Linked DNA regions of Homo sapiens: all the other regions are reported to be linked to region 1. The links are microRNA targets in miRTarBase. Many come from high-throughput screens and were not tested one by one. Region 1 holds a microRNA gene; each other region holds the end of a gene's coding sequence.

Evidence for each region. Region 1 holds the annotated microRNA hsa-miR-548az-5p (CAAAAGUGAUUGUGGUUUUUGC, at 1,968-1,989, opposite strand). A microRNA usually pairs through its seed, bases 2 to 8, with sites in the 3' UTR of a target mRNA and lowers its output. Matches are read on the target gene's strand: a 7mer-m8 pairs with bases 2 to 8, a 7mer-A1 pairs with bases 2 to 7 and ends in A, and an 8mer does both.
Region 2: miRTarBase lists ST8SIA5 as a target of hsa-miR-548az-5p. Seed matches in the 3' UTR shown: 7mer-m8 at 741-747.
Region 3: the mRNA of STMN1 is a reported target of hsa-miR-548az-5p. Seed matches in the 3' UTR shown: 7mer-m8 at 1,155-1,161.

Annotation. Positions count from the first base shown.
Region 1 is chr8:119,323,029-119,327,178 of GRCh38, reverse strand. It overlaps MIR548AZ (microRNA 548az), which reads right to left and starts at 2,008; the gene lies at 1,914-2,008.
Region 2 is chr18:46,676,325-46,680,324 of GRCh38, reverse strand. It overlaps ST8SIA5 (ST8 alpha-N-acetyl-neuraminide alpha-2,8-sialyltransferase 5), which reads left to right. Exons shown (of 7, transcript NM_013305.6): 7 at 1-4,000. The coding sequence ends at 283. Among named protein-coding and RNA genes, the nearest start is that of LOXHD1, 21 kb to the right of the region's middle. RefSeq lists enhancers at 2,672-3,517, 3,518-4,000.
Region 3 is chr1:25,897,802-25,901,801 of GRCh38, reverse strand. STMN1 (stathmin 1) reads left to right here. Exons shown (of 5, transcript NM_005563.4): 4 at 120-311; 5 at 715-1,686. The coding sequence ends at 786. Among named protein-coding and RNA genes, the nearest start is that of STMN1, 6.6 kb to the left of the region's middle.

The DNA.
Region 1 (4,150 bases):
TGTATGGAGATAATATGTAATGTAGAAAAAAATACAGTTAGACAGATAACCAACTAGCTGTATTGGATCAAACCTCTCTCTGAGAACAACCAAAATAGCTGAATAAAGGGGAAAGAAAAGAAAACAACAAATCGTTTGAAGATATCTGAGATCTTACTGAGGCTGCCAAGATTTGTGAATTCAAGATTCCAGGGAGAAAGAAAGGGCAGAGAGCATGACATTAGGCATCGCTTTTCTTTCAGGGCATTTGTAAATTTGAAAGCAGCAGAGAGGCTGAAGAGCTGAACAGAGATTTTGGCTTAATCATGGGACTAGAAGAATAGGAATTAGAATTTGAATCTTTCAAAGCTACACCAGAGTTGTGTGGGTAAACTGGAAACAGACAAACTCAAAAAAGACAGAAGCTCAGCTTCAAATTAATTCAATCCTCAAAGGGAAGCAAAACAGAACAAAGATCAAAGCCAAGGATATCCTATCTCTTTCATATCAGTTACCAGAAAGGAAGTGACCTCTCTTACCCAAGGCCAATCCCTCCTAGGGCTCTGCCTTATTTATCCTCTCTCAATCTTGTGTTGTTAGTTATCTTTGCTCTCTCTCCTGTACCTATAACCACACCATAAGGCATTTTTATAATCCCAAATTCCTTATTCTTTTGGCATGCATCGTGTCATGAATTCAGAGGGATTTGTTTCTTGCTACACTAATCTTCACAGAAAACCTTCCTTGAGTAGAATTAACTAGCACATCAGCTAGGCATATGGACTTTTTCTGGGCTTCCTTTTATTTTTCCCCCAGATGATTTTCATTAACACATTTCAGGCTACTGTAGATTGCTTAATATGTTAATTAAACACATTAACTTTCTTGTCAAGAATCTTGCTTTTTGATTACTTACTGTTGTGCAAGCATGCTACATTGCAGACCCTTCTAAAAAAGCCCATGAAACACTGTTGGGTAGGGTCCACGAAATTACACATTTTAGCTGAATGTCTAGCCAAGGGTTAAAGTCAATATTCAGCCTAAGTTGAAGTTGAAGATGAATATCACTTCATGGCATGAACTTCTGGGAAAAAAGAATAAATATTAAAATTTCCACATTTTATTTTAATTTTGTCATTAAAAATGCTCAAAGTCAAAGTGTATAATTTGACATTACTGTACAACACAATGATTTCCCAGCCTTCTCAGTGGAGGTCAATACACTAAACCTGTGTAATCCCAATACAGTAGACTCTCACTTTCAATTTAGATCAAAGGAGGAGCAAGCTATTCTGTTTTGAGCTCTGCCATTGTAAATATTGATGGTGAAATGGACCCTAAGATAAGATTTTCTGGGAAGAATTGCAACATATAAAGCATATATGGATATTAATTTTTACTCCAAGTCAATTTTGAATATATTTGAAAGTGAATGTTTAGGTAGTAATACTACACTTTGAATGATATGCAATCCTTCTAACTAATATTTTTATGGTGATAATAATTTTGGTTGTCTCATCCTTGATCATCAGCAAGTTTAGAGTTCCGGAGATGATAAGTAAGTCTTTCACTATTCTTCCAAAGAGCAAGCTTGAATCCCAAAACAAATTTTGTAAAATTTCCACGTCAAATCAAATTCTGGTACATTTGTGTTGTGGGTAATTTCTTATTGCATAGTATCCATACTCTCAACACCTTCAATATCATTTACTTTGTTGATCAGCATATGCAGTACCAAAGGAACTTAAAGTTGCCAAAGCACACAGGCCGAGTCTGTCTTCCATATTCTTATTATTGGTTAGTTGTTTTATATGAATGATTATAAGATGGCAGTTTTGATAGACCAGTCCCATGCTACACCACTGAAAGTGCTCTTGCCAGAGTCACCAATAATTTCTTTAACTGATCCTCAACTGACTTGATCTCTGTGCAGCAAATTTATTAGGTTGGTGCAAAAGTGATTGCAGTTTTTGCCATTAAAAGTAACAGCAAAAACCACAATCACTTTTGCACCAACCTAATACAATCTTGAATATTCCCTACTTTGTGAAATATTTTTCCCTATTATTATTACATTTTTTAAACTTTCTCTAATTACTCTGCTTTTTCCCAGTTTGTTTTGAATTTCCCTGCTTTCTGCTAATCTCTTGTATATGAATTTTCTTCCAGATTCTAGCCTAGATAGAATTTTTATTTTTTTGCTTCACGTAGCCTCTCTTTGAGGATTATATTTTTCATACTCACAAATTCAATTATATAATTTCAATCATGATTCTCAAATCTATATCTTCAGCCAAGATATTTCTCCAGAGCTTCAGATCTAATTTGTTAGTCACCTAGTAGATATCACCACATAAAATCCTATAAATATCCCCCTTTAGTGTCCTTTTTATCAGTGAAATTACCACCATCTACCTAATTATAAAAGCCAAATACCCAATAATTTTCCATGACTTGCCCTTTTCTCATTTACTTTTTATATGTAATCAGTTATCAAGCCTTGTGTTTCTATTTGATAAAATGGCTCTCCTTTTATTTTTTGCTTACCTTCATCTTTTGTTATTATCATAGTTCAGGCAATCATCTTTTGTCTTTAGTCTCAAAACACCTTCCTTTCTGGTCTTCCGTATTTTGAATTCATTACTTCCAAAAATGTTTCTATTGGAGCCAGAGGGATGGTTCCAAAAATCCAGTCAGATCATAGCATTATCCTGATTAAATATCATCCCCCATTACATTTAGAATAATACTTTGGGGGTTATTTATAAACTGCCTTCATTTAGCCACTCAATCCCATCTTTTTTCCTTCTCTCTTGTTTTCTCTGCTCCAAACATTCTGAAATTTTCTTTCTTTCTCTGAATAAATCATGATTATTCTTACCTCTAGGCCTTTGCACAAATAAAAGTTTTGATGAAGAAGTTTCAAGTTAATGGTTTGTGAATGTAAGACAATTCTATTTTTTTTTTCAATAACTGTTGCCAGGTTTGCTTTGTTGAATTCCTTCCCTGCTGGGCAACAAGAAACAGTGATATCTCAGTTTGACAAATAACTTTTTATTTACTTCTGATTAAAAATAGTCTTAATTTGGGGTAGTAAAACTTTCCTTTTTTAAAAGCTTGTGCAGGGCTTCTGTATAGTATACGTATTGAACAGGGTTTATGTGTCGATATGGATAGGGTTGGATGTGTTGTTGGCTTTCTCCCTCTCTTTATCTTTTTCCCAGTGCCTGTTGTATTGATGATGATGTAAAGGGGTGTGTGCATGTTGTGGGTGGGGGGGTGTGAATGTGTGTACGTGTGTGCATGTGTGGATGTCTATGTAGTATGAAGGGGGAGATGGTAGAGGAGTGGGATGTCTTTGCTTATGCTGTATTAGTGATAGTGAGGTGTTATGGTTGAATCACCTAATACACACTGTTTCCTTATGTCTGGTGTTGTTACTTGGTCTACACTGAGAGAAGTCAGATGCCAGGTTTAGAGTTATAATAAGATTGATCTGATTTTTGGAAATATCCTTCTGGCTAAGTTGAAACCCATTAGGAGTAATCAATTAGAAATATAGGCAGTCTTCTAAGGCTGACAAAAACAATAAATTGGGGAAGGACTCCGTATTCAATAAATGGTGCTAGGATAACTGTCTAATCATATGCAGAAGAATGAAACTGGACCCTTTCATCATATACACAAATCAGCTACAAATGGGTTAAAGATTTTAATGTAAGACCTCAAACTATAAAAATCCCAGAAGAAAACCTAGGGAATACCCTCTTGACATCAGCCTTGGCAAAGAATTTATGGCCAAGTCCCCAAAAGCAATTGCAGCAAAAACAAAAATTGTTAAGTGGGACCTAATTAAACTGAAGAGCTCTCCACAGAAAAAGAAACCATCAACTGAGTAAACAGACAACATATAGAATGGGAGATAATATTCCCAAGCCATGCATCTGACAAAGGTCTAATATCCAGTCTATAAGGAATTTAAACAAATCAACAAGCAAAAACCAAATAACCCTATTTAAAAATAGACAAAGAACGTGAACAGACACTTCTCAATAGAAGACAAGTGGCCAACAAACATGAAAAAATGCTCACCATCACTAATCATGAGAGAAATACAAAGCAAAACCATGAGATACCATCTCACACCAGTCAGAACAGCTATCATTAAAAA
Region 2 (4,000 bases), not on the chromosome of region 1:
CAACGTGTCGCGCTACTGGCTCAGCCTGGGGGTGCGCGCCAAGCGCATCAGCACCGGCCTCATTCTGGTCACTGCGGCGCTGGAGCTCTGTGAGGAGGTGCACCTCTTTGGCTTCTGGGCCTTCCCCATGAACCCCTCGGGCCTCTACATCACTCACCACTACTATGACAACGTCAAGCCGCGTCCCGGCTTCCACGCCATGCCCTCTGAGATCTTCAACTTCCTGCACTTGCACAGCCGAGGCATCCTCCGCGTGCACACGGGCACCTGCAGCTGCTGCTGATGGCTGCCAGCCAGGCTGCCCGGCAAGCGGCGCCCCCTCTCCTGCTGTCCCTCCTGGTGGAACTGGGAGCCCCGAACCGGGCAGCGTGGGGTCCTGGCGTTCAGGCTGTCTCTCCCTCCATTGTTCAGCTCTGTACTTGGATCCTGGGGTAGGGAGGCAGGGTTAGGAACCGGGGCAGAGTCAGCTCTGTGCTGAGCCTCCTGGCCTGGCCCCCACCGGTGCATCCGCCCAGTGCGTCCACCTGCCCTGGCTAGCATGCTGCTGGGCCACACCCCAAGATCAGGGGCCCTGGGGACGGCAAGTGAATAAAGCACATTTCCACCCAATTTTGTCATCCGAGAGAGAGCACAAACTGCAGGCCCTTGTTGCAGCTGAAGGAAGACCCTACAGAGAATGGAATTGAGAGTGGAGACAGGACACTTCACAGGACACTTGAGCACAGTCAAGATTTTATTCACACTTTTGGTTCCTGTGTTTTATATCGAAGACTTAGCTATGAATTGCTATCTAAATCTCAGAGCTTAGAAGCCAACCCAGTGACTAGACCTTCCAGTGAAGAAAGTGATCTCAAGAGGTCCAGGGACTTAACAGCCAAGCCACACCACCCGACAGGTTCTTCTGTGACACCGAGAGATCTAACCCAAGGCCTGGGTTATGTCTTAGTCGAGACATCATCATCTGAGAAGCACCACATCCTTTCAGACACATCCTCGGACACACATGCGGTCTTGGTGCCCCCAGGTTCAATCCTGCGTTAGCTCTTTTGATGAGAAGGAAATAAACCAAACCAGCCACTTGCACTATGGCTTCCAAGCCAATGTTATTGACTCAATAAGTGCTTAGCAATTGGCTTCCTCTTTTGTCTTCCTATTTTCAGCTCCATTTAAACCAGGAGTTATTTATAAAGACCTCTTCCTCTCATGTCTCTGAATCCTGCAGAATCCTGCTGTATCGTGTTCCTCAGTCGGAACCATAGGCTCTGGGCTGGAAAGCACTGACATGTCAGGTGGTGAGCTTAGCAGAGAGAAACGAGTTGTGGCCTCCGACACCAGCATCACTGAGGCTTCCGCTGTGAAGGCGGGACTTCTCACAGCAGACCCCAGGGCCTGGGCTTGGGGCAGTCAGCTGGGCTTAGGCAGAGAGGGGTTCACATATCATTTCACATCTGAAATTAATTCCCTTTGCTTCTCCCTGTGGTGTTTCCACCATAAATGGGATGGTGTCTAAGAGACACTGTTGGTGAACTAACTGCCTTAGAACTTAGCTTTGTGGAATCATAGGATGTTAGTGCTGGGAGGAGGACTTCAGCCTACCTGCCTGGCAACCTGTCTCCCTCCCTCCTTCCTTTCTCCCTGCCTCCTCCCCTTTCTCCTTCCCTCCCTTCCTCTTTTCTTCCTCCCCTTAAACATTTCTGGAAAGCCTATTCTGCTTTGGTCTGTGGTTGGACTTAGGAAGACATAAGGATAAACAAAGGCATTATCTGTGTCTTCTGGGGGTGCAGGGCCCAGAGATTATAGACCCAGTCCCACGTGCTGGGTGCTCTGGGAGGGTTAGGAGCTGTAAGAGTCTATCAGGGAGTGGGATCTGCTATCCAATCACCTCATTTGACAGGCCCCCCGGCTGAGCCAGTCAGGGACGTGGAGAGTGCAGGCTTTATCCCAGGCCTCCAGGCTCCTGATCCAGGGCTCCGTTCTTGGCCAAACTTTTGTGTCTTGGCTTGGGCTTCCTGTGGGGGGGTTGTTGTGGAACCTGTGCCCTGTGCACAACACTGTTCTCAGTGCTGACTCTCACCTGCATTCTGAGCTCTGGTCCTGGTTGGGAAAACCTCAGGTGGCTCTGAGTCTCAGTCTGCTGGTCAGGAATGTAGGGGAGTAGCCAAGGGGATGAAATGATCCCAAACACCTGCTAAACCAGGAAGAACTGCAAAGGACAGTGGATGGTTATTACTTGCTTGAGCTCTGCCTATTTCTCCCAGGGAGGGAATTTCTGGGAAAGATTCCAGTTACCTGAGATTTCTAGCCACTGCATGGTTAATTGAACCCAGTTCTTGAAACCATGGAATATAAAAACTAGAAGGTTCTTAAAGACCATTTTGTTCCACTTTAGGAAACAGGCCCAGAGCAAAGATGTGACTGGGTCAAGTCATGCCTGGGGCTCTACTGAGTGCCTGCTGTGGACAGAGCCCTCTACTGGAAGCCCTCTGGGTACTAGTTATGTTCCAGATGGGCAGTGTTTGGGGGAGGCTCCCTGGTGACACAGACATCAGGATTCCCACAGCTGAGGGTGTTGCAGGTTGGAATCTGCCCCAGCCAGGGCCCTCGTAGGAGCTGAGGATTGGAGCATCGGGATCCAGCCCACAGAGGAGTTGGGACACCTGGCTGCTGGCCATATTCCTGCCTGTGGGTCTTAGGGCCAGTCCTTCCTCTCCCTCAATGTCTCAGTTTCCTCATCTCTACAACTAGAAGCTTTGTAAAAATCTTCAGCGTCTGTACAATGTCCTTATTTTGGGGGGACATTCATGATGAATGGATCTAAACCATAATTAATATTTCTCATTATACTAGCTAGCATTTATCAAGCTACGTTAAGCACTTTCCCTATATTATCTCCTGTAATCATCATGAGACCCCTTTGGGTAAGGAGGCTCCCATTGTACAGATGAGGAGACAGAGGCTTAAAGCAATTCCAGGACTTGCCCTTGGTCAGGCACCCAATGGAGGGAACGGCACCCAATGGAGGGAACTGCACCCAGATCTGTAGAGCCCCAAAGTCTGTGCTCCAAACCTCTGTCTTAGCTTCCCAGACAGTGACACCAGAACATGAGGGATCCTGACCAAGATGCCCCTGCAGGATAGTACGGGGCCCTCCTCCAGGGACAAATGCTCTAGGAGGCTGTCATCGTCCGGGAAGCAGCCTGTGCTTATAGGTGCCTCTCCCTAACCCTGCCGCCTACAGCAGTAGCGACTTACCCACAGTGGCACTGGAGGGGAACTGAGGCCATCGTCACATTTTTAAGGTGAGGAAAGATGCCCAGAGATAGCACATGTTAAGTGACAACACGAATGACTTGCCCAGGGCTACATGGCCAGCTTGTGGCTCAACTGGGACTCACCAGTCTCCTGACTTTCAGGATATAGTTTTTCTGCTGCAGCCAGTGTTTATAAGAAAAACATTTTTTCAAAGGCTCAGAGAGACCTGGTGTTGACTCTGGAAGCCTTCTGCCATGTTCCTCCACAGCCCTGTCACCACGCCACCATGCAGTGCAGACTACCCATTGAATTATTATTCAAGGGAAATCGATTCCCGTAAACAAAACAACCATCATGTCTTCCTTTGTGCTAAACCCACTGCTCCAGGCTTGAAAGGCAGCAAAAACAAGTAAATGACTCAGTGCTTAGCCAAGCACAAAGAAAGGTGGCTCAAGGTCAGAGGCAGCGTCTGAGACCATTTCAGCAATGCTGCTGCGGCAGCTCTGCCCACTAATCACCTGGTGCCCAGAGACAGCATGTGCTCATCGCCCTTGACTTTGCTGAGAGCAGGGAGGAAGCAGAGCAGTGCTTAGAAACAACTGAGGCAGAGTAGAGTGCTGGCCAATTTAGTGAGTGAATTGGTGAATAAATTATATTTATTGAGTGCTCATGTTGTGCCAGGCATGGTGCCAGGTGCCGGGGAGCTAGTGATGAACAAAACGTCGTCCCTGCCCTCCGGGAGTTTGTG
Region 3 (4,000 bases), not on the chromosome of region 1:
CTGACCTCAAATGATCCACCCACCTTGGCCTCCCAAAGTGCTGGGATTACAGGCGTGAGCCACCACACCCAGCCTGAATACATTTTAGAGTGCCTAGCCTATTAAACTTTTTTTTCCAGTCCCATGAAGCTGAGGTCTTGAAGCAGCTGGCTGAGAAACGAGAGCACGAGAAAGAAGTGCTTCAGAAGGCAATAGAAGAGAACAACAACTTCAGTAAAATGGCAGAAGAGAAACTGACCCACAAAATGGAAGCTAATAAAGAGAACCGAGAGGCACAAATGGCTGCCAAACTGGAACGTTTGCGAGAGAAGGTTGGTTTCTTACTTTGTAAAAGGGTTGAGCTTGGAGTTTGATGCACCAATGAGTTGGCTTGAACTAAGTGCTTTGATAAAAGGTGTTTGGTGTCTTTTTGTCATCCATTTTGGGGCTTAACATATTAAATGAAAGGTATATTTTAAGATGGAATATTCAGTAATTCCCAGCATAATTGCACAGTCCTTGGAAGTCCAGTAGGCAGCTTGTTAGGTTCTACAAGGGACCCAGGAGATTTGATGATGATGTCTCAGAACTTAAATTGTGTGGTTCCCACAGGCTGTAATATATGCACTGAGGTTGTGTTGGGCCTCTTTGAGGTGGGGGCTGGGGGTCGTGACTTGACAGGCTTTTTTTTTTTTTTTTTTTTTTGACTGATGACACCTTACCCTTCCTTTACAGGATAAGCACATTGAAGAAGTGCGGAAGAACAAAGAATCCAAAGACCCTGCTGACGAGACTGAAGCTGACTAATTTGTTCTGAGAACTGACTTTCTCCCCATCCCCTTCCTAAATATCCAAAGACTGTACTGGCCAGTGTCATTTTATTTTTTCCCTCCTGACAAATATTTTAGAAGCTAATGTAGGACTGTATAGGTAGATCCAGATCCAGACTGTAAGATGTTGTTTTAGGGGCTAAAGGGGAGAAACTGAAAGTGTTTTACTCTTTTTCTAAAGTGTTGGTCTTTCTAATGTAGCTATTTTTCTTGTTGCATCTTTTCTACTTCAGTACACTTGGTGTACTGGGTTAATGGCTAGTACTGTATTGGCTCTGTGAAAACATATTTGTGAAAAGAGTATGTAGTGGCTTCTTTTGAACTGTTAGATGCTGAATATCTGTTCACTTTTCAATCCCAATTCTGTCCCAATCTTACCAGATGCTACTGGACTTGAATGGTTAATAAAACTGCACAGTGCTGTTGGTGGCAGTGACTTCTTTTGAGTTAGGTTAATAAATCAAGCCATAGAGCCCCTCCTGGTTGATACTTGTTCCAGATGGGGCCTTTGGGGCTGGTAGAAATACCCAACGCACAAATGACCGCACGTTCTCTGCCCCGTTTCTTGCCCCAGTGTGGTTTGCATTGTCTCCTTCCACAATGACTGCTTTGTTTGGATGCCTCAGCCCAGGTCAGCTGTTACTTTCTTTCAGATGTTTATTTGCAAACAACCATTTTTTGTTCTGTGTCCCTTTTAAAAGGCAGATTAAAAGCACAAGCGTGTTTCTAGAGAACAGTTGAGAGAGAATCTCAAGATTCTACTTGGTGGTTTGCTTGCTCTACGTTACAGGTGGGGCATGTCCTCATCCTTTCCTGCCATAAAAGCTATGACACGAGAATCAGAATATTAATAAAACTTTATGTACTGCTGTAGCAACTCCTGTGAAATGACTAAAGGGAACCTTAATTATTTCTAAAGTAGCATTTGACTCGGGTGGTTAAGGTTGGCAGATACGTCATCTTGTATCCAGAGGCTGTAATAGTCCCCATTGTCAGTGCTTTGCCTCTCAATTCAGGGAACGCCTTTGGCAGCTTTCCTGTGCTATTTGAGAAATAGCCTAATTATACATATTTTGTGCCTCTCAGACATCTGTATAAAAGCTCTTGGAAGCCAAGCACTTATAGCAAAAGATGATTGCTAATACTGCGGTGGGGTCCATGTGTTGCTAACGCATGTGCCTCTGCTGCTTGGGCTGTATCTTGAGATTGGGGTTTTACCAAACTTATTCATGAGAACAATAACAGCCTACCTCAACTTACCTCCTAAGATTGTTAGGATTAAATGGGTTTGTGGCAAGAGAGCACACTTAGAACATAGATATTTAGCATTCCGTATAAATCACGATTACTGTTTTCAACCAGAGGCTAATGAGTGATCTAAGTTTATACTCTTGAGTTGGAAATTATGCAGTTTTTATATTCCTTAAATTGACTTTTAAATTTACTTAAATGATCAATCAGAGGAATTCTGAACAAAGCTTGGTTTAAGGAGTTACGCCCATGTAGGGCAAATAGGAGCAAGTGCAAGTATAGTTGAATACAACAATAGGTTCTGAGCAATATCTAAACCAAGAGGACAGGATGAGGCTTGTGTGCAGTGGTGCAGCACAGTTCATCTTGGCTCCTGTCTCTGGCACATAGCAGGTGCTCTGGGATCTTTAAAATACCAGTTCTGAATAGATGGGAATATAAAGAGGGCCTGAGGGTAGAAACTTGGCATAATGATACGAGGTGTCCTACAAGTGGCAGTGAGCTTTTGTTCATCTAAGACATTTAGGGAGGGAAACTGGCCTCAGGAGAAAGCAAGGGAAGGATCAACAGGCCTGAAAGGATGCCTCATCAGTTACCACCCATCCCATGGTGGCCCTGACTTCCTATCAGAGGGCGATCCTGAGCCCCTGCCTTGTGACAGGCTTAAGTCACAGGAAACTGAAGGGGATGCATCTTACCACAGAAATAGAAGCTCTGGCTTTTCTATTTCACCTTGACCTTTGGAGAAGCACTTAGTCCTGGGCCCCCATTTTCTCCTGGATAAAATGAGATGGTTGGGGGAGATCAGTTAAGTAACTTTCACTCCCCCATTCTTTGCATCTGGCTTGGAGTGAAGAGGAGGAGCGGTGGCACCTACGAGCTTCTGGGGAAGTGTCTCTGGGTATGCATTCCCGGGCCCGGCATTCTCTGCCATCACGGGAGTCTGCGTCTGTCCCAGTGGGGCCAGCCTCTCCCAGCAGTACTTCCAATAGATTGGCCTAATAAGGCCAGAGTGGTTTGACAAGCAGTTGGGGCTGTCACCAAGGAGCAGACTCCATTCCTTTTGTCTTGAATGGAAAATGAGGCTTGTCCCTTCCTGAGGATTTTGTACTTGGGCCTTATGGTTGACTGGGCTCAGTGGAGAGAGGTTTGAAGGACGTGAAGGAGGCCCTTAAATTAACATTTGACAAGCACCTAGATTGTGCTCCACACTGGCCTTTGCGCTAGGGATGGAGAAAAGATGGGGTGGGACCAGCATATCACGTGCCCATGTGAGGGGAAGGAGAGCTGTAGAATGCTTACTTACCTGAGGGTGAGGCTCTCGACCACATACTTGTACTCACCAGGGTGCTTTAGTGCTTTGGTGAAAGGAGTGACCACAGAGGGCTTTGTGGTCTGGGAAGCTTTGAGAGGAGAAAGGACATGAGCTTGTCCTTTTGGAAGTCAGATGAACCTTCCAAGCCAAACCCCAATAAAGCACTTAATTGTTAAACACTTAGTAAGCCTGTGATTGCCACGTGCACAGAGAACCTGCCATAGTTAATGGCCTTTGGCAGGCCCTCCAGGCAGGCCCCCTCCCCATTTTTTTATTCTAAGCAGTGGAGGCTCTTTGAAGGCTTTTGAATGTGGGGGGCTGCAGTGGTCAGTAACAAAACCATTTTAAGGAAGAGAAAGTGGAGGCAGGGTGAGTTGACTGGAGAGTGGCTGCCGTTCAGGCTACGGTGGCCATGGTGGCTGTTGGGGCAGCACAGGGATGAGGTGGGAGGGCCTGCTGGGCTCTGGAGCAATCCATGTGACTGACACTGCACTGAGGAACTGGGACATGTGCTCTAAACTTGGGAAGCTGGAGGAGAAAGAAATCACTCCACTTGGGAAAATGGCAGTGCTACTATTTACTGAGCACTTAACGTCCAGGCATCGTGTTCATTTTCTCCACCATA